4 linked regions of the Homo sapiens genome follow. The protein of the gene in region 2 interacts with the protein of the main gene of each other region in a pairwise test. Each region holds a gene or a part of one and is shown on either strand. Other genes may lie near its edges. The genes, in order: FABP1, PPARA, TNP1 and ALB.

The links.
Region 1: the proteins of PPARA (region 2) and FABP1 interact in a two-hybrid assay, tested with the Homo sapiens proteins (one study listed by BioGRID).
Region 3: the proteins of PPARA (region 2) and TNP1 interact in a two-hybrid assay, tested with the Homo sapiens proteins (one study listed by BioGRID).
Region 4: the proteins of PPARA (region 2) and ALB interact in binary tests that used the Homo sapiens proteins (3 or more experiments, as listed by UniProt).

Annotation. Positions count from the first base shown.
Region 1 is NC_000002.12:88,125,063-88,131,907, forward strand, and holds the start of FABP1 (fatty acid-binding protein, liver), read right to left. Parts: upstream 3,001-6,845; 5' UTR 2,956-3,000; coding exon 2,889-2,955; intron 1,287-2,888; coding exon 1,114-1,286; intron 1-1,113.
Region 2 is NC_000022.11:46,153,516-46,160,557, forward strand, and holds part of PPARA (peroxisome proliferator-activated receptor alpha), read left to right. Parts: intron 1-7,042. UniProt on the Homo sapiens protein: Ligand-activated transcription factor. Key regulator of lipid metabolism. Activated by the endogenous ligand 1-palmitoyl-2-oleoyl-sn-glycerol-3-phosphocholine (16:0/18:1-GPC). Activated by oleylethanolamide, a naturally occurring lipid that regulates satiety.
Region 3 is NC_000002.12:216,858,953-216,864,191, reverse strand, and holds TNP1 (spermatid nuclear transition protein 1), read left to right. Parts: upstream 1-4,127; 5' UTR 4,128-4,157; coding exon 4,158-4,296; intron 4,297-4,496; coding exon 4,497-4,525; 3' UTR 4,526-4,734; downstream 4,735-5,239. UniProt on the Homo sapiens protein: Plays a key role in the replacement of histones to protamine in the elongating spermatids of mammals.
Region 4 is NC_000004.12:73,399,605-73,407,294, forward strand, and holds the start of ALB (albumin preproprotein), read left to right. Parts: upstream 1-4,682; 5' UTR 4,683-4,723; coding exon 4,724-4,802; intron 4,803-5,511; coding exon 5,512-5,569; intron 5,570-7,024; coding exon 7,025-7,157; intron 7,158-7,690. UniProt on the Homo sapiens protein: Binds water, Ca(2+), Na(+), K(+), fatty acids, hormones, bilirubin and drugs. Its main function is the regulation of the colloidal osmotic pressure of blood. Major zinc transporter in plasma, typically binds about 80% of all plasma zinc.

The sequences.
Region 1 (6,845 bases), on a different chromosome or scaffold from region 2:
GCCTCCCAAAGTGCTGGGATTGTAGGCATGAGCCACCCGCCCAACCAGGTATGTATTATTCTTCCCAGAGCGTTAACTTTTCATATTGTGGCCTCCTTCCAAGCCCTTATACATCCTGGAAGAGATGACAGGAACCCAGCAGGGAGCCAAAGACCCTGGGCAACATTAAACATTTTGCCTCCAAAAAGAAAATTTGGAAAAGGCCCATAGTTAAATCCCTTGACCATGAGCACATCAAGAATATTATCCTCCTAAAATCATCCTGACCTGTAATGTTCTAATTGGAGAGGCAGAAATAAAGAGTGACCAGAAGAGATAAAAAGCAAACACGCCCAGCCCAATGAACAGAGCTGTCCACGGGGAGGAGAGAAGAGGGCTGCTAGAGCATGGAGTGTTTCAGAGGGAGGAGGAGACGGGCACCCCCATTGCCAGGATCCCCCTGCCACCATCTGCCAACCACTCACACAGCCCACACCCCAGCTGTCATTGCACACCATGAGTTGTGCCCAGCAGAAGTGATGCTGCCCTGCACTGCCTTCAGTCTAGGGAGGTTGACTGTTCTTATTTTACAGATGGGGTGGCTGAAGCCAGAGACTTTGTGACCACCCCTGAAGGCAGGGTCTGAGCACCTGTCTGGGGCCCTGGTATTCTGGTATTGCTAGCACCTCCTTCAAGAAGTCTCTCCCTATCACCACCAGCTCTAGGTTCAGTGAAGGCCAGTTGACTTTGGGCTCAGTTAAGGGTTTTTCACAAACTCCCACTTGCCCCACTCCTGGGCCCTGCTTAGAGGACTCTTAGTGCTAGGAGCACTGGGCCTGGGAGAACCTGAGACTTAGAATCCTGCTGTATGCCTGGTTCTCCCATATCCTCCATATGGGAGAGCTCAGACTTTAGGGGCTGGAACACCCCCCAGACAGTCCCTGGGAAGAGGAGAGCAGCTTCTCTATAAGATTCTTCCCTAAGAGCTGCCTTTGTCTCTCTGCTTCTCCCACATGGGAGGTGGGTTCAGAGATGGTATCTGTGGGTGGAATTGTGAGGTTTGAGCCTTGAGGAATGAGGTCCCAGGGCCAGGTTCCAAGGAAAGTTCTGACAGCAGAAGGGATGCCCTCCTACCTTGACTTTCTCCCCTGTCATTGTCTCCAGCTCACATTCCTCCCCCACCGTGAATTCGTTTTGGATCACTTTGGACCCAGCGGTGATGGTGAACTTGAAGTGCTTCCCATTCTGCACGATTTCCGACACCCCCTTGATATCCTTCCCCTTCTGGATGAGCTCTTCCGGCAGACCTGGTGGAAACCGTCTGAGGTTTAGATATGGGCAGAGGTGGGAGTTTCATGACCGTGGTAGGTAGGTGAGAGAAACGACATGACATGGAGGGACAGAGAAGGGCACTGTGTCTCCCAAGGGGCCACAGAAACTCACTGGGGGCTTGTCAGCAGCATCGGCTGTGGCCTCAGAAAGGAAGGGACAGTGACCTGGCCTGGCCTGCTGCTATCTTGCCAGTCAATTTATAAAAAGGACACTCTTCTGGCCTGAAGAACCGTTCCTCTTGTAAGCACCCTGGTTCTTGCTCACTCTCCTTCCTCATTCCCTCCTCCTTTGATGACTTTGCTCTTGGAGTGTGAGCATTTCATTCCCCATACCCCTGGTGACCAGAGAGTTGATCTTCCAAGCTAGGTCCCTCCTGCAAGTGAAAGGGGAGCTGCTGATAATCATGCCAGGCCAACATACACAAAGCGGCACTGTGCCAGGCAAGCCTGTGTCCACCTCTGCAGTCAAGGCTCTGGAGGAAGACATACCAGCAATCCCTTGCCCTGGGATAGAGCTTTACCAGTTTCAGAACTTGTCTATGCTGTTATACAAATTGAGGTTCACAAAAATTTTGTGGGTGGACAGTGAGCACAGAGGGTCCTGTTGCATGAGGGAGAGATGAGAGACACAGAGGTGGTATGGCTTGCCTGCAGAAGATCCTTCTCTGGCAGCACTGAAGGTCCTTCTCTCCCTGCCCCTGCTGTCTTCAGCACCCTTCTCATTCTTGGCACCCTCCCTTGCCATGCCACACCCTTTGCTTATAGGGCTCCCTCTGCCTGGAGCATGCTCCCTGCCCCCAGTTCCCTAGACACCTGTCTTCCAAAGCTCAGCCTGAGCCTTCTCTTTACCTCCACTGAGCCATCCCCCCATGCTCTCTGTGAGCCACATCCTCCTGTACATGACCCTAGGAGGCACAGGGGTTAAAGCAGGGTCTCTGAGAACCAGTGCCTGCTTCCAATCCTAACTTAAACACTTCCTACTTGCATGACCTTGCTTGTGATTACTAAACCTTTCTGGGCTTCAGTTGCATTAACTGTAAAGTGGGAAAATAATGGTACCCAGCTTAGTTTTTTGGCAAGGAATAGATGGGGTATTGCATATCCCATGGTCAGCACAGTCGCCTGGCACAGTCAGCGCTCCATACACCTGAGGGAATGCCTTATTACCTTTATTTCTTCTCTTCTCTTCCCTGATAAGAAAATGCCTTATTGCCTTTATCATCTGTCTCCCTGGTATCTATCCAGCACAGTGCTCAGTGTGTGGTTGGCCTTGAATCACTGTTTGTTTGAAGAATGAATAAATGCAGGAATAGGATCACACAACGAAGTGCCAATGACATGGCCATCAATCCAGACCACACCCTAGTTCAGTGCTCTTTCCACTTGCCTATGGGGTGGCCTTGTGCAGTGAGGACTTGCTGCAAATAACTCCAGAAGTCAGTAAAATGCCCCCTAGTTTGTGTATATAGCCTGAATCTCTCCCCCCATCTCAACATTTGGACCCTAAATAGCCACTGCTGGTAGAGCTAGACCCTCACTGATGTGACCCACAGCTTTGCCTTTCAGTCCAGCACTCACCGATTGCCTTCATGAAGGCTTCAAAGTTTTCCTGGCTCTGCAGTTGGTACTTGCCGGAGAAACTCATGGTGGCAATAGAGCTCCCTCTTCACGACTGACCTGCGGCTCTGCCGACCAGACTGTCCACTGTAGGCTGTTTTATAGGGGGCTCCCTTCCCTTCGAATAGCGGCCAGAGGTCAGCAGCTGTTGATTCCTTTATGGCCAGGTTCAAACATTAACTCCTGAGAGCAATGGTCAATGATAAAGAACAGGATGGGCACAGCAAAGGTTTGCTGTAATTCAGCAAACATTAATGAATATCAGTCAAGCAGGAAGCCTTATGGCCCTGCAGCCTTTAAGTGACTCTCCGCACCCCACGAAATGTGTGTATATGCAGGTATGTGTATATGTGCACACACATGTGTATGTATATAGATGTGTGCGTATGTGTTTGTACATCGGTGTTTATATATACATATATGTATTTTGTACATAAAGATGTATGAATGTGCATATATGTAATGCATATATACACATTATATGCATGTGTTTATATATGTCTGTACACATATACACACAAGTGTGTGGGTGCATGTGTACACACACAGAAAAATACCAGAGAATTCCTTTGAACTCAAAACCTCACCTTATTTACATAACCTTATGATCTCTTCTCACCCCCATTATTACACAAACTTATTTTTTAGAGTTGTTATCAGCCGCTAGTGTTATTTTGTATTCTGGGAATTCCTCCTTGATGATTATAGGCTCCTCCACAGGCCTTTTTGAGGTGTTAAAGCAGTCCATGCTAAATGGCAGGTGTAAAACATTGAGACGCATTTTATTAGGCAGAGACAAGGCAGGAGAAAGTGGCACCTGCTGACTTGCTCCAGCCCCACTGAGAAGACAGGACAAGGGATCTGGGGTTATGTGTAGGAAACTGGTCTTGTAGGGTTATGTGTAGGAAACTGGTCTTGTAGGGTTATGTGTACAGCACTGGCCTTGGGGAGATGGCCCAGCAGGGCTTCCAGTGGCCTTGGGATGTGCCAGTTTGTTGTGAAGCACAGAGAGGCGTGGTGCCCAATGGGTGCACGTCCCAGTTCCTGCCTCTGAGGCAGCTCCTTACAAGCACCCCCTCACCCCTAGATTCTCTCCCTTCTTTGTCTGGACTTTGGCGTCAACCTTTTCACCTGCAGCCTCCAGCCTTCATCCTCTGGGCCTCCTCTACTCTGTGGTTAGACAGATCATCCTGAAGCATAGGCTGAGTCGGGCCACTGCTCCAGGCATGAGCCTCAGTGGTTCCCATCACTTCAGAGGCCACAGGTCCTGGATGGCCTAGTGTCACGTGACGGGTCATGATGGCCACCCCCAATAACACTTCCATGTCCCTATCATGAGTTCTAATTTTTGGCTTGGAAAATGACTCCCATTGCCTAAACTTCTAGCAGGGCTGCCAGCCCTCAAAAGGCAACTCCAGTCTACCTTTCCATCCTTTTTCCTTCCTTCTCCTCAAGCCACAGTTCCAGCCACAGGGCCAAGTGGACACATCGGGGGCGTCCATGCCACTCTCTCTGCCCTCCGTGGTCTCCAGCATTTGGACATGTTGATCCAGCAAAGCACTTCAGAAGTTCTCTCCTCCACCCACAGTCCCAGTGCCAGGGTCCTTCTACAGCATCCCTGACAGGTGGTGTTAAGGTGTACCCTGCCACAGGGAGGTCCTCACCTTTGGAGCAGTGTGGGCAGAGAACACTCACTAATGGAGTGTCCTGCCATGCAGATTCTGGCACCAGCAGACCTTTCCCTCCAGCACAGAGGGGTGCTCTGGCCCTCCCTGCTTGGCCCTCCTCTGACAGTGTCTAGGACACAAGGTGCCTCCCAGGCCATGAATTGGGGCTGTCCCTGCAGCAAGCGAAGTGGGCCTGCATGCTGAGAACTTATGGCTTTTTATAATCACCACGACTACCTGAACAGCGGGCAGGAAGGGGCGAGGTGGCTCAAAGAAGTATGGGCACACCCACAGTCCTTCTCTCATCTTGCTCTGAGCTTTGATTATACATCTTTTAACATGTCTATTGTACTAAAGGGGTCCATATTAGACCCTGGTCTCCAGATGGGATGCTGATTTTTCATTTTTGTATATGTAAGGAAGTAAAAAATCCATTGTCTTAAGAACTGGCATGAGAATTCCTAGTGTGTGTGTGTGTGTGTGTGTGTGTGTGTGTGTGTGTGTGTAAATGACTGGATTAGCTGCCTGGGAGACAGAGTGTGTGAGACCCCAGACCTCAGACCCGTGTGTCAGCGAGAGCCAAGCTGGTGAAGAGAAGGGCAGCTCCCTCATGCAGGAGACCAGGAGAGGCTGGGTGTGTCTTCCTGTCCCTCCCCCAGACTGCAGAAAGGAGAGAGAGGAATGTGGCAGGCAGGCAGGAGAGAGGCCACCAAGAGGGCATGGGGTGATGGGTCACTGAGATACCCCCAGTGACCGCAAGGCAAGAAGAGCTCCAGGATGGCATTGGCTTTGAAGCTGCTCATTTGCTGCAGTGAATCCCCATCCATCTTTCTTTAATTTCCACCCCAACTATTTCAAAAGCTTCAGTAAAATATAGTGCCTGAATCAATATGTGAGCAAGTGGAAAATGATGCAAGGCTGAGCTTTATTTCTGGATGGATGTGATGAGGCTGAGATGGCACATGCAGAAGCAGTACCAGGAAGTGGAGTGTCTGTGGGGATGCATTCCCTACAGGGTTCCCCAGGTCCCTAGACATCCTAGGAAGGGCTTTGGAGGAATTCAAGGTCATTTTATTTAGATCCCATCTGGGTTACATGTGACACCTAAAGCCTGCACCAATAGCTGGCATATGTCTGTCTAATGACCATGTGAAGGTTCAGCCCAGGGCTAAATTCAGCTCTATACCTGAGATCCTATTCACTACCTACCTAAAGAGCTCTTCTAGCATTTGTCAAGGAAGGAATACGTAAACACTTGCTTAGATGGGGAGCTTAGGAGTTTTGCAGCCTAAAATCAATGAAATAATCACCGAGGAAAATGACCGTGATAGAGTCATTACCATGCCCAACTCCCATCACACCCATCAGTTGCTTCGTTTGGGAGAATCTGCTCCAAGTGCCCATGTTATCTCATGCCCCCAGCTGCCTGCCTGACATCCCGCTCAGATAAAGGGATGTCTGGCTTATACATTCCACAACTAGGCCCTCTCCCCTTGATCGCAAATGTCAAGTATCATGCCCCACACTGCTGCTTTCTGGGATCTACGGAGGGGAGTGGGAAGGAGCGTCATGAAAGCTTCTCCATAGAGCAAGTCAGCACCAACCCCGGAGGCCTCAGGTGAAGTAGGGACCAGGTGCACCTTTCCTGGTGTCTGAGGAACAGCAGGACCCATGAGCTGTCTCCTTGTGGACCACTCTGCCTCACCCTGCACTTCCTGCCTACCCTGTCCAGGCAACGCCTGCAGACTCAGAACAGCATTGGGAATGCAGCTGACCCAGAGGTTGGTCAAGGGCCTGGCACAACCAGTGAAGCCTTGACAGTTTCCCTGGCAGATGGGCAGCCTGACAAGTAAATTGAGCTGATCAACGCCAGGCCAGGACTCCCCCTCTCCCCCAGGTCTGAGATATGGCCATTCTTAGGCAACCCCCGATGACTTCCCTTTGTCTTTTTTTTTTGTGTGTGTGTGAATCTTGAGGGCACAGAGATCAGTAGCCATTTCAAAAACTAATACTCATGAGTTTTCCATAAAGTTAGGAGAGGGTAATGACATCTTCCACCCACTAGCTGAGCAAACACAAGAAGAGATAAGCTTAATTGCAATGACAAAGTTCAAGTGGCTTTCAAGAAAGAAAAAAAGAGACTCCCACTCTGTGGGCACAGCTTTGGAGTGTCCAAAGATTCTGGCCCTGCTCACTCCACACTAGACATCCCCTCTTCTCACATCCCTACTCAGACGGGCAGCGTGCAGGT
Region 2 (7,042 bases):
GAATACTGCAGTGGTTTTCATTAGCTCCTGTTTGTCAAACTTATGAACAGAGTTTTAAAAATTGTGTATCAGCCGGGTGCGGTGGCTCACACCTGTAATCTTTGGGAGGCTGAGGTGGGCAGATGACAAGATCAGGAGTTTGAGACCAGCCTGGCCAATATGGTGAAACCCTGTCTCTACTAAAAATACAAAAATTAGCTGGGCATGGTGGCGGGTGCCTATGGTCCCAGCTACTCAGGAGGCTGAAGCAGGAGAATCTCTTGAACCCGGGAGGTGGAGGTTGCAGTGAGCTGAGATGGCACCACAGCACCCCAGCCTGGGTGACAGAGCAAGACTCCGTTTCCAAAAAAAAAAAATTGTATATGAGAGAGACAGAACTAGACAGAGAAGAAGGAGAAAATGTGTCTTCTTTATACACTATTTTGTAACTTGCTTTATCGAGTAGGTTATGAAAAATCTTCCTATGTGAAAAACATTTCTGCATCATTTGAAATGTCTATATAATATCCCATTGTGTTTAGATACAATAATATTTAGCCAATCTCTTTATGTGTATATATTTAATACAGTCATTCTATAAATATTGACTGAGTAGCTGCTGTGGGCTACTGTCCGCAGTGCTGAACAAGACAAGCATGAATCCATGAAACTGATTTTCATACCAGAATATAAAAAAGAAACTTAAAGATAATCCTCATCATGGTAAAAGATGAAGAACCTATTTTTGCCGGGACATCTTACTCTTTAGTAATTGGTGGCCAGTGTTCTTTTTCTTGCATGCTGTTTTGGAGAGTCTGTTTTTTAAATAAATATTTAAGTAGCCTGGGCGCAGTGGCTCACGCCTATGGTTTCAGCACTTTGTGAGGCCGAAGGGGATGGATTGCTTGAGCCCAGGGCTTCAAGACCAGCCTGGGCAACCTGGCGAAACCCTGCATCTACTAAAAATACAAAAATTAGCCAGGTATAGTGGCGTGTGCCTGTGGCCCCATCTACTTGGGAGGCTGAGGTGGGAGGATCCCTTGAGCCTGAGAAGTGGAGGTTGCAGTGACTGAGATGGCACCACTACACTCCAGCCTGGGTGACAGAGTGAGACCTGGTCTCAAAAAATAAATAAATATTTATGTAATCATCTTTAAGCAGTGTTTTTAATTTTATTTATTTATTTATTTATTTTTGAGACAGGGTCTCACTGTGTCACCTAGGCTAGAGCACAGCTGCATGATCACGGCCTATTGCAGCCTCGACCTCCCTGGGCTCAGGTGATCCTCCCACCTCAGCCTCCCAAGCAGCTAGGACCACAGGCACACGCCACCAGGCCTGACTCATTTTTGTATTTTTTGCAGAGACGGGGTCTTGCTATGTTGTTCAGACCTGTCTCAAACTCCTGGGCTCAAGCCATCCTCCTGCCTCGGCCTCCCATAGTGCTGGGACTAAGCCATGAACCACTGCACCCGGCATAAGTGGTCTTTCTTTAAAAAAAAAAAAAAAAAAAAAAAAAAAAAAAAAAAAAAACCACATTAATTAAAATATGTATTTGCTTATTATAAATATATTTGAAACATGCCAATTTTTCTTCTCTTTTTTTGCTCTATTGGTTTCTGTGTGTGGATGGATATATTTTTAATGGCAAATAGGATGAGTGTCTTTACTTCCAAGTAGTCAGTGTTTTTCTTTAATGTTTGTACTAATTTTGTCACATTGCAGTTAGAGGTTGTGGCCTGTCTAATTTCTGCTTTTTTGGAACTTGAGAGTCTCTGTTTTTATTTGTTTTTGGTAGCCTGGCATAGAGTCCATTTTTCTTTTCTTTTCTTTTTTTGAGACGGAGTTTAGCTCTTGTTGCCCAGACTGGCGTGCAGTGGCGCAATCTCAGCTCACTGCAACCTCCGCCTCCTGGGTTCAAGCGATTCTCCTGCCTCAGTCTCCCCAGTAGCTGGGATTACAGGTGCCCACCACCACACCTGGCTATTTTTTGTATTTTTAGTAGAGACGGGGTTTTGCCATGTTGGCCAGGCTGGTCTCGAACTCCTGATCTCAGGTGATCCACCCGCCTCGGCCTCCCAAAGTGCTGGGATTACAGGTGTGAGCCACTGCGCCCAGCTGTAGATACTTTTTAAAAAGGTATAGTTTCTGATTATGGGGTAGAAATGTGCTATGTCTGTCATTTCAGCCTTATGAATTGCCCAGAATAAGCTAGATCACCTTTAAGGCCATGTGGTTAGGGAAACTTGGGCACAGAATTTACATTTTCAACTTGGTGATAAGATGGGTTTAAGGTAAGAATCAAATAGGAGAAAGCCTTAGCTGTTCCAGCGGCCCATGTTTAAAAGAATGTGCTTCTTTTTCCAAGTATTTCTGCCGCTTGCATGCACTGAGCTTCTTTGGAAAGGAGCACCATGCAGGCATATTTTCCAGACAGGACCGGATTTGCTCGTTACTCAGAGGTGTGTGCATTCTTTGCTTTTAGGATATTTAATTAGCATCTTTTAATAGTGATATTACGGTGTCTTAAAAGTTTATGCATTTGAAAAGAAAAGAACTTACTCCTTGCCAGGTCTCAACCTATCATGGTTATCTTTGCAGCTGAGCTGCGTTGGTTTTGAGGCTCACATATGGTAAAAGTGGTTGGAAATCTGGAAATATTGCTGTGTATCTGCAAAGCAGCTTGATATAGTGGAAAAGGTATTAGGTCATTAATCATGAGATTTGGATTCTAGCCCCTTAGCTGCTGCCTGCCAGGCCTGGAGACCTTTGTTCTCTTCTTTAAACTGCTGCTTTCTCATCAGAAAATGAAGTTCCTCTCCATACCACCTCTCTGAAGGGCTGTGAAGCTCGAAGTGGCAGCTTAAAAAACTGCCCATCTCAGGAGGTGTCTTAAGAAGGAGGACATACCGCTGGCTCCTGCCTTTCTCACTTAGCCAGGTCTGATACCTGTGTTGTTTTCACTGTGGCCATTTTAGGATTTTTCAAAGGCTTTCAGAAAGCAACATGCTACCGTACCCCTTATACACCAAAACTGGTTTTCATTTTGGAATATAAAAGTGAGATTTCTCCACCAGTACAATAAAGTTGTTACAAGTGGTTCCTATGTGTTTGTTTTTGTTTTTGAGACAGAGTCTCACTCTGTCACCCAGGCTGCAGTGCAGTGGCACAATCTTGGCTCACTGCAACCTCCGCCTCCCGGGTTCAAGCAATTCTCCCACCTCAGCCTCCTAAGTAGCTGGGACTACAGGCACCCGCCACCACGCCCAGCTAATTTTTGTATTTTTAGTAGAGATGGAGTTTCACCATGTTGGCCAGGCTGGTTTTGAACTTCTGACCTCAGGTGATCCACCTGCTTCAGCCTCCCAAAGTCTTAGGATTACAGGCGTGAGCCACCACACCCGGCCTCCTGTGTGTTTTGAAGGTGATTGTGACCTCAGGTTTTGGCAGGGCTATACCTTGTGTTTGCTCTTACTCCAACTCCATGGCATACCTGGACCAGGCCTCTTCATCTTGAAGAGGGATCTGCTGAAATGCAGGCCCAGTGAATCTCCCCATGCCTGGACACAGTTCCGTCAAGCCAGGACCCGGTGCTGCCTGCACCCCTGTTTCTGTTAGTCTGACTGTCCTCGCTGAGTCTAACTCCTTGAGGGCAGAGAGGATGTCTTATTTATTTCTGCCCCGCTAGCCGTGTAAACTGAGTAGGTACTTGTAAATGTTCATTGAATAAGTACCTGATTAATAGAATTTAATTCAAGAAGAATGTATTGATGGGCCTGTGTGGTCACCACAGTACTGAGATGTAGGTGGGAGCTGGCTGAAGGGGGAGGCACCTAAACAGGAGTGCAGACAGCGGCACCTACGGATGATGGCCCGCTCCATCCCACCGCAGCGAAATTGTCCCAGACCTCTGCAGCTTCCCCCACACCTAGACTGAGAGAGAGCTCTTCTTCCTTCTGTAGGGAGCAGGTGTTTCCTCCAGATGTCCAATATGTACCTCCCATTACAGCGGTGTTAGGAAGGTGAGGGCTGCCGCTGAAAGGGTCCCCTTCATAATCATCACTAGATTTGGGGTATATTATGGATTAAATAGAATTTTTATAAGATGACCTGAGGATCTATTTAAATAAAATCCTCTTTCTTTCTGCAAGATCATGGATTTAAATTCAACACAACTGACTTCATAGGGAAGGGGTATGGTGAAAGGGAAGTGAGGTGGGCAGCACTGATATTTAACAAGGTGAGGGTCCTTCTCCTGCTCTGACTGTCACATTAAAATATTCCCAGGAGAAATTGGAGAAAACTCAGATGAAATATCGTCTGTGTTCCAGGAGGCAGGACTCATCGGAATGCTTTTATTTTGCTCCATTTTAAGAGATTTGCAGATAAAGAGGAGTGAAGATTTCTATTCAGATTTACTTGCTTTATATTTTAACTTATAGACCACAAGCCAACTTTCGAAAGAGCATCATTTTGAATAGTAAGAGTTAGGAAGGCAAATACAGAAGGACTAATGGCTTCCAAGATTATGAGCTTCATAGGAATGGTTTGAGATGAGGCTATAGTAAAGCAGAATATTGAAGTTCCCCCACCCCCTTTCATTTTTCATTTTTCATTTTTAAGAGTGAGCGAGGCCAGGCGTGGAGGCTCACACCTGTAATCCCAGCACTTTGGGAGGCCGAGGTGGGCAGATCACAAGGTCAGGAGTTTGAGACCAGCCTGGCCATCATGGTGAAACCCTGTCTCTACTAAATGTACAAAAATTAGCCAGGCTTGGTATCAGGTGCCTGTAATCCCAGCTACTCAGGAGGCTGAGGCAGGAAAATTGCTTGAACCCAGGAGTCGGAGGTTGCAGTGAGCTGAGATCGCACCACTGCACATCTCAGAAAAAAAAAGAGTGAGGCCCCAAGTTTTTTTGCATTTGTTTGTAACTGAATACGTCTGAAGTTATGTGATAACCACGCCAAGGTGACAAATTGCCAAGTTTCAGTAAAAGAGACCCAGTTATTTAGAGGTTGACACGTGGATATGTCCCTTTCTAAGAAGTTCGTGGTCAGCTTTACATGAGTATTTAAATGCGTGTTTATAATTCAGCAATATGGCTTGTAAAATACAGATTGCCAATCAAGTGACATGCAAATCTTGATGATCTGAAACAAGTTTTCTTCTGTTATCTATGGAAGAAATGGTAATAGGGATATTTAAGTGGGATGAATTTTTTGAAGCATTTTCAGGCAGTTTTCCACATGGAACAAAATAACATTGAGTGGGCTGCTAACATGAGGAACATATTGCCCTCTGCCTAGGATTATGAGTAAATTTGATAAATTCTAGACTGCAGTCTCATTTTAGCTCATTTTATGAGGCAGCTTGACAACTGGGATAGTGTCTCTTTTTTTTGTCGGGGGTGTTGAGGCTGGAGTCTCGCTCTGCTGCCCAGGCTGGAGTGCACTGGCGTGATCTCGGCTCACTGCAACCTCTGCCTCCGGGGTTCCAGTGGTTCTCCTACCTCAGCCTCCTGAGAAGCTGGGATTGTAGGCATGTGCCACCACGCCCGGCTAATTTTTGTATTTTTTAGTGGAGACGGGCTTTCACCATGTTGGCCAGGCTGGGTCTCAAACTCCTGACCTGAAGTGATCTGCCCGCCTCAGCCACCCTAAGTACTGGGATTACAGGCATGAGCCACCACACCTGGCTTCTGTTCTATCTGTGCATTGGGGATGAAATTAACACAAATGATGTTTAAAGAAAAAAATGCTCAGAGAAGTTAGAAATGTGCTTTAAATTGGAATCATCTCTTAGTATGTAAAAGTTTTTTGTAATAGAAACAAGCAGGGCAGTATTTGACCTGTTGACAGTGTCCTTGGACTTTACAATTTGTGAAGCAGCGTATTTTGCTTGAGTTGTACGATTGTCGTTTTTTTCCCCCCACTTTGACAACTGTTACAGAACCTGTCACCAGATACAGGCAAGGGAGGTTGGGCTTCCCATCTCTGCACGGCTTCCCTGTGATTCACAAGCAAGCAATCAGAAGTGCACAAAAGTTTAGAACGCGATTTTCATTCTCTTCTTTCCTTAGAAAAACTCGCTTTGTTAGCCTTTTCCAGAAAGGAAGGCACTCAATTGTTGTAATACTCAAATCATAAAAAGAAGCCTAGTCTAGTCTATTCAGCAAGGTGTTCTGAAAGAGGGAATTTTTTAAGTTCAATTATGCGAAGATCTTGAAGGTGGGACTCAAAGGAGAGGGCTATCCTGGGAAGAAGGCTTTGGAAAATGAGAGGCATGAAGGGGAGAGGGTATTTAAATGTGTTTGAAGCCAAGGATCCTTGAGAGAAAAAGCTGGCACTAACAGCGTTCAAAGAACTTGCGTGACAAGTGATGACTAATGACACTGAGGGTGGGTTGTGGGTGCCTAGTGAATTCCTCCGAAGCCAAGAGAGAGGTTTCCAGACCCAGGGAAGAAGGTGTGTACACCCAGAAGTAGTGTAGGGACAGAGATTCCGATCACAAGCTGTGACTGGAAGACGCCGACCACCACTGCAGCAGCCTGAAAACCACAGTCTTGAACCGCCAGCGAAGGGCTGGGAAGTGCGGATCCAGGGCTGGTGCACTGAACCCAGAGGAGCAGGCTCCCATTCCCAGCTAAGGGTGGCAGCTGGCGGGGATCTTTCCAGCAGAAAGCTGTAAGTGGAAGCTTTCAATTCAGAGCAGTAGCAATGCCTTCAAAGTCCCAGGCTTCACGTGGGAACAGAGAATGTGAAGAGTATTTAGCAGGATGCCAATATAAGAAATCTATATTGGTGTTCGTTTGTTTGTTTTTGAGATGGAGTCTCGCTCTGTCACCCAGGCCGGAGTGCAGTGGTGCGATCTCAGCTCACTGCAATCTCTGCCTCCTGGGTTCAAGCGATTCTCCTGCCTCAGCCTCCTACATAGCTGGTACTACAGGCACGCGCCACCATGCCTGGCTAAATTGTTGTATTTTTAGTAGAGATGGGGTTTCACCACGTTGGCCAGGCTGGTCTCAAACTCCCGGCCTCATGATCCGCCCTCTGCAGCCTCCCAA
Region 3 (5,239 bases), on a different chromosome or scaffold from region 2:
ACAGTAGAGAAGACAGGGTGTGCATGTGAACTGGGTAAAAGGTCCCCACTTCCCAGCCGAGGTCAGCATCTGGAGAGACTTAGATTTCAGAGAGGGATTCAGACTGAGTCATCGACAGGTATAAGGACTGTCAGCAACTTTTCCATGTTCCCTCTTCATAAGCCCCAAGTCTCAGCCTGCTGGGAAGATCCGGCCCTATGAAGGCATCCACTGGACTCCCCGGGAAAATTAATGGAGTGAGTTTGAATTGGAGAAGTGACATGGAATCTAACTAGAGATCTGACTTCCAAAACAGTGACACCCTAAGGCTACCCCTCCTAGCCTAGGAAAGGGACCAGTGAGAGCACTGGCCTCCAAGCCCTTTCCTGCACTGTAACCCTAGCTACCCGTCTAGGAGATACAGACACCATCCTGTCCATTTACCTTTCTCCAGGCAAGAACTCACTGAGCCCCAAGAAAAGAAAAGGCTGATAGTGTCTCTTCTCAAAAGGCCAGGAATTTAGCTCTCTCTCTTTCTGTGCCAAAAATGTTCAGAACATAGTCGTTTCCTTTCATTAAGGGAAAAAAAAGCTGAGTCCCACCAGGGAAGCTAAGGTGTAAAGGAAACAGGTTTATGGGGCTGTCCCTGTTAGTCCTATGCTGAGTTATTTGAAGTCACTCATATGTCCTCTCTGTGCAAAGATAGCAGAAAAAAACAAAATGGTGAGACAGGGAGCAGACTGGATTAACAGATGATTCTCAAGGAAGGGCCTCATCCTGGACCTGCTAAAGGTTAGAAGTAGCTCACTAGGCTCTATCTAAATTGCTGCTAGCTTGAGCAACACTGGGGCAGAAATGGGAAGAGAAACAGAGACAGGCAGCAGAGACCAACGCTCAGCCCTGCTCCATCCTCACTCCAGGAGGTCCGATACAGGAGCCAACCCAAACACCCCCCACACCCCACTCTTGAGTGGCCTGTGAATCGCCTTCCCCGTCCCCCACTGGGTTTTCTGCTGCTTAAGTTTCTCAGCATGGGTGTCTGGAACCAGAACTGCTCCTCAACTCTAGGCAAAGGGGACTTTTTTGTTTGTTTCTTCATCAGTTCCCGAGTCTGGCTGCCTTCTTCCCTGTGATCTCAGCTTCTCCTTGGCAGAGCAGATCTTTTGGGGGTGGGAGGGATTGGGGAGAGAAATAGTATCCAGCCTTCAGGACCATCCAGAAAAATGTCTCTCAAACCAAAGAGGCCAGTTCCTCTGTAAACATTTTAGCCAATGGTTTCAGGCATGAGAGGTGGACACAGAGCACCAGAGGACCTGTTGTGAGGACAATGTCTTCTCTCTTCCCTGCCTTGAAATGGCCCCACTTATGCAAAGTCACTGTGATTGTGTTGAACTGTCTGTCCTCATAATATACCAAAGCAGCTAGACTGAACAAATATTTACTGACCACCTAGTGTGGGCCATGCTAGTACCTGCGGAAAATGCAGTAGAAATAAAAGGTACAGTCCCTAACGAGAAGGAGGCTATCGCCAAAGTCAGATCATTTCAGAGATCACCTAGCCCAATCTGCTTATTTTTAGAATAAGGGAGCTAACGACCAGAGAAGTCCAGTCAGGACCAGAATGAAGACACACCACCTCCTGTTGAAACCAGTCTAACACACATGGCTGGCAATGCAGGCATAAAACATGATTTCACACAATTAGGGTTGGTTGTCTAGACTTTAAAGCCAATATTATACAGACAATAAACTTTGAAGAAGTTTCAAAGGACAGTGAAAATTTGATAAGTTGGGAAGTCTTCCTTAGAGATGTGGGGCAAAATGGGAAGGAACAGGATAGTTAGAAAAATAAAAGAAGGACTTTTTATTCATTGACCAAATGTATTTCACAAATACTTACTGAGCTTCTATTCTGTGGCAGGACTGATGAACTCCCAGGGAATATTCAGTAGTGAGCCCAATTTCTCAATTCCTGCTTTCACAGAGGTCCCTGCTTTCATGGGGGCATGTTTGTAGGAGAAACAACCAGCCTTGAGTGGACGCAGAAGGTCTGGACTACCAACAAGCAAGCCAGCAGCCTGTTTTATAGAACTTCTTCATGTGAATAAAAGTCACCAACAAGTCACCAATAGAAGGTCTCCAGAGAGACCTGCCCAGAAGCAGGAAAATGGAAAGTGTCACATATGGTGGCTATACAAGGAATCTGGGTTTCAAAACTCAATTTGCCATCTATAGATATCAGAAAACCAGGGAGTGGGACTTGAACTACTTTCGCTCTTCTATTCAACCAACTTTTGCTAAGGATCTCCTGCATACAAGATGCTCAGTTCTTGAATGAGGGTAATGACAATGGAGAGAGGAGAGACAAATGGAAGAAATAGCAAACAAGTTCTATAGAAATCCGAATGAGGCGGGCACAGTGGCTCACGTCTGTAATCCCAGCACTCTGGGAGGCCAAGGTGGGCAGATCACCTGAGATCAGGAGTTCAAGACTAGCCTGGCCAACATGGCGAAACGCTGTCTGTACTAAAAATACAAAAATTAGCTAGGCATGGTGGCACACGCCTGTAATCCCAGCTACTCAGAAGGCTGAGGCAGGAGAATTGCTGGAACACAGGAGGCAGATGTTGCAGTGAACCAAGATTGTGCCACTGCACTCCAGCCTGAGCAAAAGAGAAGACTCGGTCTCAAAAAAAAAAAAAGAAAGAAACATTTTCAAAAGCAAAGCATTTACTATGAGGTGTAATGGAGGAAAAAGGAAAGGCTGGATGACTTATACACCAATAATCATTCAATATATCTATTTGTAAGTGTCAAAGGCACTTCAAAGCTGGTATGTCTTATACCAAGTACATGATCATCACTCTCCCCATGTCTGGCCTTTATCCCCATGAATGGCACCAGCATCCAGATAACTGCATTATACAGAAACAAAAGCCACACCCTTGACACCATCTGCTTTCACCTCCCAAATTCAATCCGTCACCAAGCCTTGGTCTCTTGTCTACTTTAGATCTCAATCAACACCTTTCCTGGCCAGACCTAAACCATCATCAAATCTTTCTCTCTGCTGAACCATTGATGTTGACAGTAGCATCTCCCTTTACACAGCTCCTCCAGTCAATACATCACCCACTTGGCACCCTCTAATCTCACATGCCATCCTCTTAACATTTTTAAAGGCTTCCCAATGTACTTGATCATGGTTTGATCTCTGTCTCTCCCTCCAGCCTCATCCTGTACCATGTAGGGAGTTTCCCTCTGCCCTTCTCCAGCCAAAATGACTCCGTAAGTACTTACTCACTGATTTATGTAGACATCTGATGAATGGCTTTCTCCCCAGTGGGCTGAGAGTTCCATGAGCACAGTATCTACGTGTGTTTATCCTCCACTAATTTTCTACCACCTAAATGTATGGCATATGCTATGTGATCAATATCTGTGACTGAATTTTAAAAAATGATTAGGTTAATTGTTCTGAACCAGAGCCATTTTTTCCCTCACTTCCCCAGCCTCCCAAAGAAACAGGTGGCAATGTTTGGGAATATTTTGGGTTGTCATAGCTGCCAGGCTTCTCTGGTGTCCAGTGGGTAATGGCCAGGGATGTTGCCAAACATCCTAGGGTGCACAAGACAGCCCACTGAAAGTTACCCTGCCCATTGTGTCAACAGTGCCAAGACTGAGAAATCCTGACCTAGATGAAAAAGAAGGAATATTTCTATTTTGATCATATTGAATTGGGTTCTGTAGAGTCAAGTCCTTACAGAAATAAATTTATTATCTCTGGATGCTGTGAGAGACTTAAACAGTCATGCATACACACACACTCAATGACTGTTACATTTCCTACAGGCAGGAGAAGCATATCTGAATGGTCTCTTGTACTCATCCAATGCCTGGCACAGGGCTGGGATTCAGTTTCTCAATAACACCTCTCTGGGAAAGCCTCACTTAACATAAAAAGGACCTCAAAACTGAGGGCAGCCCTTGAGCTGCACGAAAAGGACCACCTTATTTCACAAATGTGACCAAAGTGCAGCAAAGGTGAGTGACAGCACAGTAGAGCCCCGCCCACCTGCTGAGCCATGCCCCTTCCCTGTCACAATGGCCAAGGCCTTAAATACCCAGACTCCTGGCCCCCGGGCCTTGCAAAGCCCCTCATTTTGGCAGAACTTACCATGTCGACCAGCCGCAAATTAAAGAGTCATGGCATGAGGAGGAGCAAGAGCCGATCTCCTCACAAGGGAGTCAAGAGAGGTGGCAGCAAAAGAAAATACCGTAAGGGCAACCTGAAAAGTAGGAAACGGGGCGATGACGGTGAGTGAGGGATGGGGAGGAGATTGCCAAACTTAGGCACACATTGCTGCCAGGCCCTCCCTCTTGGAGGCAGCTCTCACAGGACCCTGAAATCTTGGCCTGAGATTATTTCCAATAACTAAATGCAGATTTGAGCAACAAGAGTCTTGATGGGAATGTTCTAATTCGTGTCTCTGTTGCAAACCTGTCCTTTCCCACAGCCAATCGCAATTACCGCTCCCACTTGTGAGCCCCCAGCGGGCTCTGCCCTGGTGCGCTTCACACAGCACCAAGCAGCAACAAGAACAGCAGAAGGGGAACTGCCAAGGAGACCTGATGTTAGATCAAAGCCAGAGAGGAGCCTATGGAATGTGGATCAAATGCCAGTTGTGACGAAATGAGGAATGTATATGTTGGCTGTTTTTCCCCAACATCTCAATAAAACTTTGAAAGCAGAAATGTTTACTTTGATCTTTTGGTTGGAAAGACTTGAGTTCCTGAGCTAGGTGGGTTTGGGGAAGAATTGGCCAGTATGAAACCATTAAATGTGACTTGGAAAATATCAAAAGTAATTTGTCCTCCAATTCCCTCCCACCACCGTGGGAGGTGGTCCTACTCTGGCCACACACTATTGCCGTATTTGTCTTCATCCCAGTGTGCTGTCTCTCTCCTCAACATGGAAAGGGAGAAGAGATAAAAAAGGGAGAAATGCATTCATTAGCATTAACCAAAGGATTCAAGCTGTTTTTGTTAGAGCTTAAACCAAAGGATGCAAGCTGTTTTCGTCAGAGCTTATAGCATAGAGGTGTTGAAAGCTAAACTAAATCTAAAGACTTGGCCCGGAGATAGAGATCACCTGGAGGAGCTCTTAGAAGCTCTTAATTCATTGATCATATGGGCAGTATTAGCAGGCTAAGAGATGGGAACACCTTCTGAACAGAGACCAACATGTTCTTTGTAAAGG
Region 4 (7,690 bases), on a different chromosome or scaffold from region 2:
CTCGCAAAGCTTAAAGCTATAGAAGACATCAAGAAGAAAAAATACCTTTTAATAAAAACATTCTAAACTCTATCCACTAAAATTTCAACATGAGACTATTTTAGCTATACAATCTTAGTTGTTTTATAGAAGATTGATAAAGTTCAATTTTATAACTTTAAACTTAAGTAACAAGTTTCTTGAATTTCATGTTTAAAATATAGAATATGAATAGATTCAAAGTGCATTCATTTCTGTTTAATTTCCATCTGTGGCTATCCTTATGAGACAGGATTAGTATTAATTTCAATTTATATGTTTATAGATTCTATTAGTTGTTAATTTATTAAGAATGGATAAACATGGATTGCAGACATTAACTATATTTTTCTTGCACTTGAAAAACTTGATAAAAAAATATGAGAAAGTCTCATTAATATAGTTTAAATAAGTTTAAATGAACTTTTTATTCTTTAAAAATATTAAGCTGAACTAGCTAGAGCGTAATACTTGAGGAGCAATTGTGAGGCTTAGGAATGAACAAGCTCTCAAACTTGAATCCTAATTGCCTAACTTGATATATTCTTTCCTACCACTCAGGTCCTTTTCTCATTTGATAAGGCTGTCACATTGAAAACATGGAATTGCAGAATGTTCAAGGTAGAAGGATCGTTAAAGATAATTTAGTCCAACTTGACCCATATGGCATAGAGATATATGCAGATCTGCATGTCCAGTTCTGCAGCTAGAAACTGACACTGAGCTGAATTAAACCACACGGAGAAGAACTGAGAAATTTAAAGTAAAAGGTTAGGAAATTCGAATGTATATATATTCCAGAGGCCCAGTGTAACATGAAGAAAGTCAAGGAGAGGGACTCTTTCATCATGGAAGATCTGGGGGCAGAGGGACTTAAAAGGTGGGACAAGCCAAAGATGGTGACCTAGGGTGGTTTTTATGATATAACCTTTTTTCTCCTCATTCCCTATGAAATCTTCAGCCAATTCCATATTTCTCACTAATTCAAGTGAATATCTGGGGGGATGGCTTATGGAGGGAAATAAGGGAGCAATTGTTTGGATTATATTCCAATTTTTTATTTGCATTAGAATACCTATATGTTTATACATTTTTATTTGCATTAGAAATACTTATATAAGTTTATACACTTTCATTCTAACTTTTTTTGAGGGAAATGTATCTCCATAAGTGAATAAGAAGTTAAATTACTGATTATGTTTCAATTGGTTAGTTTGATGCTTAACAGTCTTTCACTTTTCCACTCTTGCATATTTTGTAGAGAGTAATACAAGCTCTTCATGATAGGAAGGATCTGCATATGTTTATTTTATAGTAGAAAAATGGTAAGATTTTCCTGTCCCCAATTTTCTCTCCAAACAAATCCAAATTTCTTGTATTTTGGAATGACTCTGGGTAAAGTGGTTGTTTATAGAAAGTCTCTTATAAAATATTGAGGATATTATTAGATATTATTACATTTCCATGAATATGTTTCCCTTTATCTTTAAGAGAAGAAGAGTCAGAAATATAACCTATCAGAGTGGGAGATGGCATAAAAGCTGGACTAAATGGATTGCTAGATGGAGGGCAAACCTGGTGTGAATGACTCAGTGAGAAGCTTCGGGAGTCCTGAGGGTAGCAGAAGGGTGCGGATTTAAAGTTACTGTTAGAGTGGCTGGAAAATGGGAGACCGGTTCAGAGACATTTTATCTACTTAAAAACTGTGCCTTTTGTATCACGTCAAAGTGAATGCAAAACAAAGAACAAAAGGGTTAAAGGCTCAGGTTTAAATCCCAGGTATATGTACATTTCAATTGAGGTATTTTTTTTTTCTTTTCTAAATGATCAGTACACTTATTCTTTCTAAAGAAAATACTTTTCTTAACTACTCTCTATTTTTAAACTTCTCCCACAAAGATGAGAAAACATTTAAAAATCATTGGGGCTATTTTTCTGTTTACCGAGTAAAGAGAATCTCTAAACCATATTTATAACTCTTACTCTAAATATTTGCATTTACCCTCATGCCAGAGCCCGTTGATGACTGACTAAACAGAGTTTCAAAGTTTGAAGAACAGGAAATTTAGAAATGACTAACAATTATGTAGGTTTATTTCTCTCAGTATAGAATGTTCATATAGAATTAATGCCAGAGGTTTTCAGAGAAAAATGCAGAAATTTTTACTTTGCAAATCCAGAAGATGCAATTGTTCAAGTATTTCTTAAGAAACATTAATTTTAAGTATGCAGATATCATTGAGAATTAAATATTTTAATTTCTAAACTATTAATCTTTTAGTAGGATGCACATATGCAAAATGCCTCATTAGTACTGTAAGAAAAGATTCTTGGCCGGGCGCGGTGGCTCATGACTGTAATCCCAGCACTTTGGGAGGCCGAGGTGGGCGGATGACGAGGTCAGGAGATCGAGACCACCCTGGCACACGGTGAAACCCCGTCTCTACTAAAGATACAAAAAATTAGCCGGGCGTGATGGCGGGCGCCTGTAGTCCCAGCTACTCGGGAGGCTGAGGCAGAAGAATGGCGTGAACTCGGGAGGCGGAGCTTGCAAGTGAGCCGAGATAGTGCCACTGCACTCCAGTCTGGGCGAAAGAGCGAGACTCCATCTCAAAAAAAAAAAAAAAAAAAGAAAAGATTCTTTTAGGTTTCATCAATTTTGTTTTAAAGCTAGGGCTCTTCATTAGATATAGGAAAATCAATTCAAAGTTTCTATTCAGTCATGATGAATTTGAGATTTTTTTAGGTTTCTTTGTATTTAACAATATATTACATTATAATGTTGTGGTGAAAACTAAATGGACTAATATTATTCTTTTCATTTGTTAAATGAAAAAGTATGCACAAAGTATATGTGAGAGTGACAAAGGCCTGAATTTGTCAATTAGTAACAATTGTATTCAACAGTAAGGATTTTATGTTTGGGTAGGCCTTTCCCAGGGACTTCTACAAGGAAAAAGCTAGAGTTGGTTACTGACTTCTAATAAATAATGCCTACAATTTCTAGGAAGTTAAAAGTTGACATAATTTATCCAAGAAAGAATTATTTTCTTAACTTAGAATAGTTTCTTTTTTCTTTTCAGATGTAGGTTTTTCTGGCTTTAGAAAAAATGCTTGTTTTTCTTCAATGGAAAATAGGCACACTTGTTTTATGTCTGTTCATCTGTAGTCAGAAAGACAAGTCTGGTATTTCCTTTCAGGACTCCCTTGAGTCATTAAAAAAAATCTTCCTATCTATCTATGTATCTATCATCCATCTAGCTTTGATTTTTTCCTCTTCTGTGCTTTATTAGTTAATTAGTACCCATTTCTGAAGAAGAAATAACATAAGATTATAGAAAATAATTTCTTTCATTGTAAGACTGAATAGAAAAAATTTTCTTTCATTATAAGACTGAGTAGAAAAAATAATACTTTGTTAGTCTCTGTGCCTCTATGTGCCATGAGGAAATTTGACTACTGGTTTTGACTGACTGAGTTATTTAATTAAGTAAAATAACTGGCTTAGTACTAATTATTGTTCTGTAGTATCAGAGAAAGTTGTTCTTCCTACTGGTTGAGCTCAGTAGTTCTTCATATTCTGAGCAAAAGGGCAGAGGTAGGATAGCTTTTCTGAGGTAGAGATAAGAACCTTGGGTAGGGAAGGAAGATTTATGAAATATTTAAAAAATTATTCTTCCTTCGCTTTGTTTTTAGACATAATGTTAAATTTATTTTGAAATTTAAAGCAACATAAAAGAACATGTGATTTTTCTACTTATTGAAAGAGAGAAAGGAAAAAAATATGAAACAGGGATGGAAAGAATCCTATGCCTGGTGAAGGTCAAGGGTTCTCATAACCTACAGAGAATTTGGGGTCAGCCTGTCCTATTGTATATTATGGCAAAGATAATCATCATCTCATTTGGGTCCATTTTCCTCTCCATCTCTGCTTAACTGAAGATCCCATGAGATATACTCACACTGAATCTAAATAGCCTATCTCAGGGCTTGAATCACATGTGGGCCACAGCAGGAATGGGAACATGGAATTTCTAAGTCCTATCTTACTTGTTATTGTTGCTATGTCTTTTTCTTAGTTTGCATCTGAGGCAACATCAGCTTTTTCAGACAGAATGGCTTTGGAATAGTAAAAAAGACACAGAAGCCCTAAAATATGTATGTATGTATATGTGTGTGTGCATGCGTGAGTACTTGTGTGTAAATTTTTCATTATCTATAGGTAAAAGCACACTTGGAATTAGCAATAGATGCAATTTGGGACTTAACTCTTTCAGTATGTCTTATTTCTAAGCAAAGTATTTAGTTTGGTTAGTAATTACTAAACACTGAGAACTAAATTGCAAACACCAAGAACTAAAATGTTCAAGTGGGAAATTACAGTTAAATACCATGGTAATGAATAAAAGGTACAAATCGTTTAAACTCTTATGTAAAATTTGATAAGATGTTTTACACAACTTTAATACATTGACAAGGTCTTGTGGAGAAAACAGTTCCAGATGGTAAATATACACAAGGGATTTAGTCAAACAATTTTTTGGCAAGAATATTATGAATTTTGTAATCGGTTGGCAGCCAATGAAATACAAAGATGAGTCTAGTTAATAATCTACAATTATTGGTTAAAGAAGTATATTAGTGCTAATTTCCCTCCGTTTGTCCTAGCTTTTCTCTTCTGTCAACCCCACACGCCTTTGGCACAATGAAGTGGGTAACCTTTATTTCCCTTCTTTTTCTCTTTAGCTCGGCTTATTCCAGGGGTGTGTTTCGTCGAGATGCACGTAAGAAATCCATTTTTCTATTGTTCAACTTTTATTCTATTTTCCCAGTAAAATAAAGTTTTAGTAAACTCTGCATCTTTAAAGAATTATTTTGGCATTTATTTCTAAAATGGCATAGTATTTTGTATTTGTGAAGTCTTACAAGGTTATCTTATTAATAAAATTCAAACATCCTAGGTAAAAAAAAAAAAAGGTCAGAATTGTTTAGTGACTGTAATTTTCTTTTGCGCACTAAGGAAAGTGCAAAGTAACTTAGAGTGACTGAAACTTCACAGAATAGGGTTGAAGATTGAATTCATAACTATCCCAAAGACCTATCCATTGCACTATGCTTTATTTAAAAACCACAAAACCTGTGCTGTTGATCTCATAAATAGAACTTGTATTTATATTTATTTTCATTTTAGTCTGTCTTCTTGGTTGCTGTTGATAGACACTAAAAGAGTATTAGATATTATCTAAGTTTGAATATAAGGCTATAAATATTTAATAATTTTTAAAATAGTATTCTTGGTAATTGAATTATTCTTCTGTTTAAAGGCAGAAGAAATAATTGAACATCATCCTGAGTTTTTCTGTAGGAATCAGAGCCCAATATTTTGAAACAAATGCATAATCTAAGTCAAATGGAAAGAAATATAAAAAGTAACATTATTACTTCTTGTTTTCTTCAGTATTTAACAATCCTTTTTTTTCTTCCCTTGCCCAGACAAGAGTGAGGTTGCTCATCGGTTTAAAGATTTGGGAGAAGAAAATTTCAAAGCCTTGTAAGTTAAAATATTGATGAATCAAATTTAATGTTTCTAATAGTGTTGTTTATTATTCTAAAGTGCTTATATTTCCTTGTCATCAGGGTTCAGATTCTAAAACAGTGCTGCCTCGTAGAGTTTTCTGCGTTGAGGAAGATATTCTGTATCTGGGCTATCCAATAAGGTAGTCACTGGTCACATGGCTATTGAGTACTTCAAATATGACAAGTGCAACTGAGAAACAAAAACTTAAATTGTATTTAATTGTAGTTAATTTGAATGTATATAGTCACATGTGGCTAATGGCTACTGTATTGGACAGTACAGCTCTGGAACTTGCTTGGTGGAAAGGACTTTAATATAGGTTTCCTTTGGTGGCTTACCCACTAAATCTTCTTTACATAGCAAGCATTCCTGTGCTTAGTTGGGAATATTTAATTTTTTTTTTTTTTTAAGACAGGGTCTCGCTCTGTCGCCCAGGCTGGAGTGCAGTGGCGCAATCTCGGCTCACTGCAAACTCCGCCTCCCGGGTTCACGCCATTCTCCTGCCTCAGCCTCCCGAGTAGCTGGGACTACAGGCGCCCGCCATCACGCCCGGCTAATCTTTTGTATTTTTAGTAGAGATGGGGTTTCACCGTGTGCCAGGATGGTCTCAATCTCCTGACATCGTGATCTGCCCACCTCGGCCTCCCAAAGTGCTGGGATTACAGGAGTGAGCCACCGCGCCCGGCCTATTTAAATGTTTTTTAATCTAGTAAAAAATGAGAAAATTGTTTTTTTAAAAGTCTACCTAATCCTACAGGCTAATTAAAGACGTGTGTGGGGATCAGGTGCGGTGGTTCACACCTGTAATCCCAGCACTTTGGAAGGCTGATGCAGGAGGATTGCTTGAGCCCAGGAGTTCAAGACCAGCCTGGGCAAGTCTCTTTAAAAAAAACAAAACAAACAAACAAAAAAATTAGGCATGGTGGCACATGCCTGTAGTCCTAGCTACTTAGGAGGCTGACGTAGGAGGATCGTTTGGACCTGAGAGGTCAAGGCTACAGTGAGCCATGATTGTGCCACTGCACTCCAGCCTGGGTGACAGAGTGAGACTCTGTCTCAAAAAAGAAAAAGGAAATCTGTGGGGTTTGTTTTAGTTTTAAGTAATTCTAAGGACTTTAAAAATGCCTAGTCTTGACAATTAGATCTATTTGGCATACAATTTGCTTGCTTAATCTATGTGTGTGCATAGATCTACTGACACACGCATACATATAAACATTAGGGAACTACCATTCTCTTTGCGTAGGAAGCCACATATGCCTATCTAGGCCTCAGATCATACCTGATATGAATAGGCTTTCTGGATAATGGTGAAGAAGATGTATAAAAGATAGAACCTATACCCATACATGATTTGTTCTCTAGCGTAGCAACCTGTTACATATTAAAGTTTTATTATACTACATTTTTCTACATCCTTTGTTTCAGGGTGTTGATTGCCTTTGCTCAGTATCTTCAGCAGTGTCCATTTGAAGATCATGTAAAATTAGTGAATGAAGTAACTGAATTTGCAAAAACATGTGTTGCTGATGAGTCAGCTGAAAATTGTGACAAATCACTTGTAAGTACATTCTAATTGTGGAGATTCTTTCTTCTGTTTGAAGTAATCCCAAGCATTTCAAAGGAATTTTTTTTAAGTTTTCTCAATTATTATTAAGTGTCCTGATTTGTAAGAAACACTAAAAAGTTGCTCATAGACTGATAAGCCATTGTTTCTTTTGTGATAGAGATGCTTTAGCTATGTCCACAGTTTTAAAATCATTTCTTTATTGAGACCAAACACAACAGTCATGGTGTATTTAAATGGCAATTTGTCATTTATAAACACCTCTTTTTAAAATTTGAGGTTTGGTTTCTTTTTGTAGAGGCTAATAGGGATATGATAGCATGTATTTATTTATTTATTTATCTTATTTTATTATAGTAAGAACCCTTAACATGAGATCTACCCTGTTATATTTTTAAGTGTACAATCCATTATTGTTAACTACGGGTACACTGTTGTATAGCTTACTCATCTTGCTGTATTAAAACTTTGTGCCCATTGATTAGTAACCCCTCGTTTCGTCCTCCCCCAGCCACTGGCAACCAGCA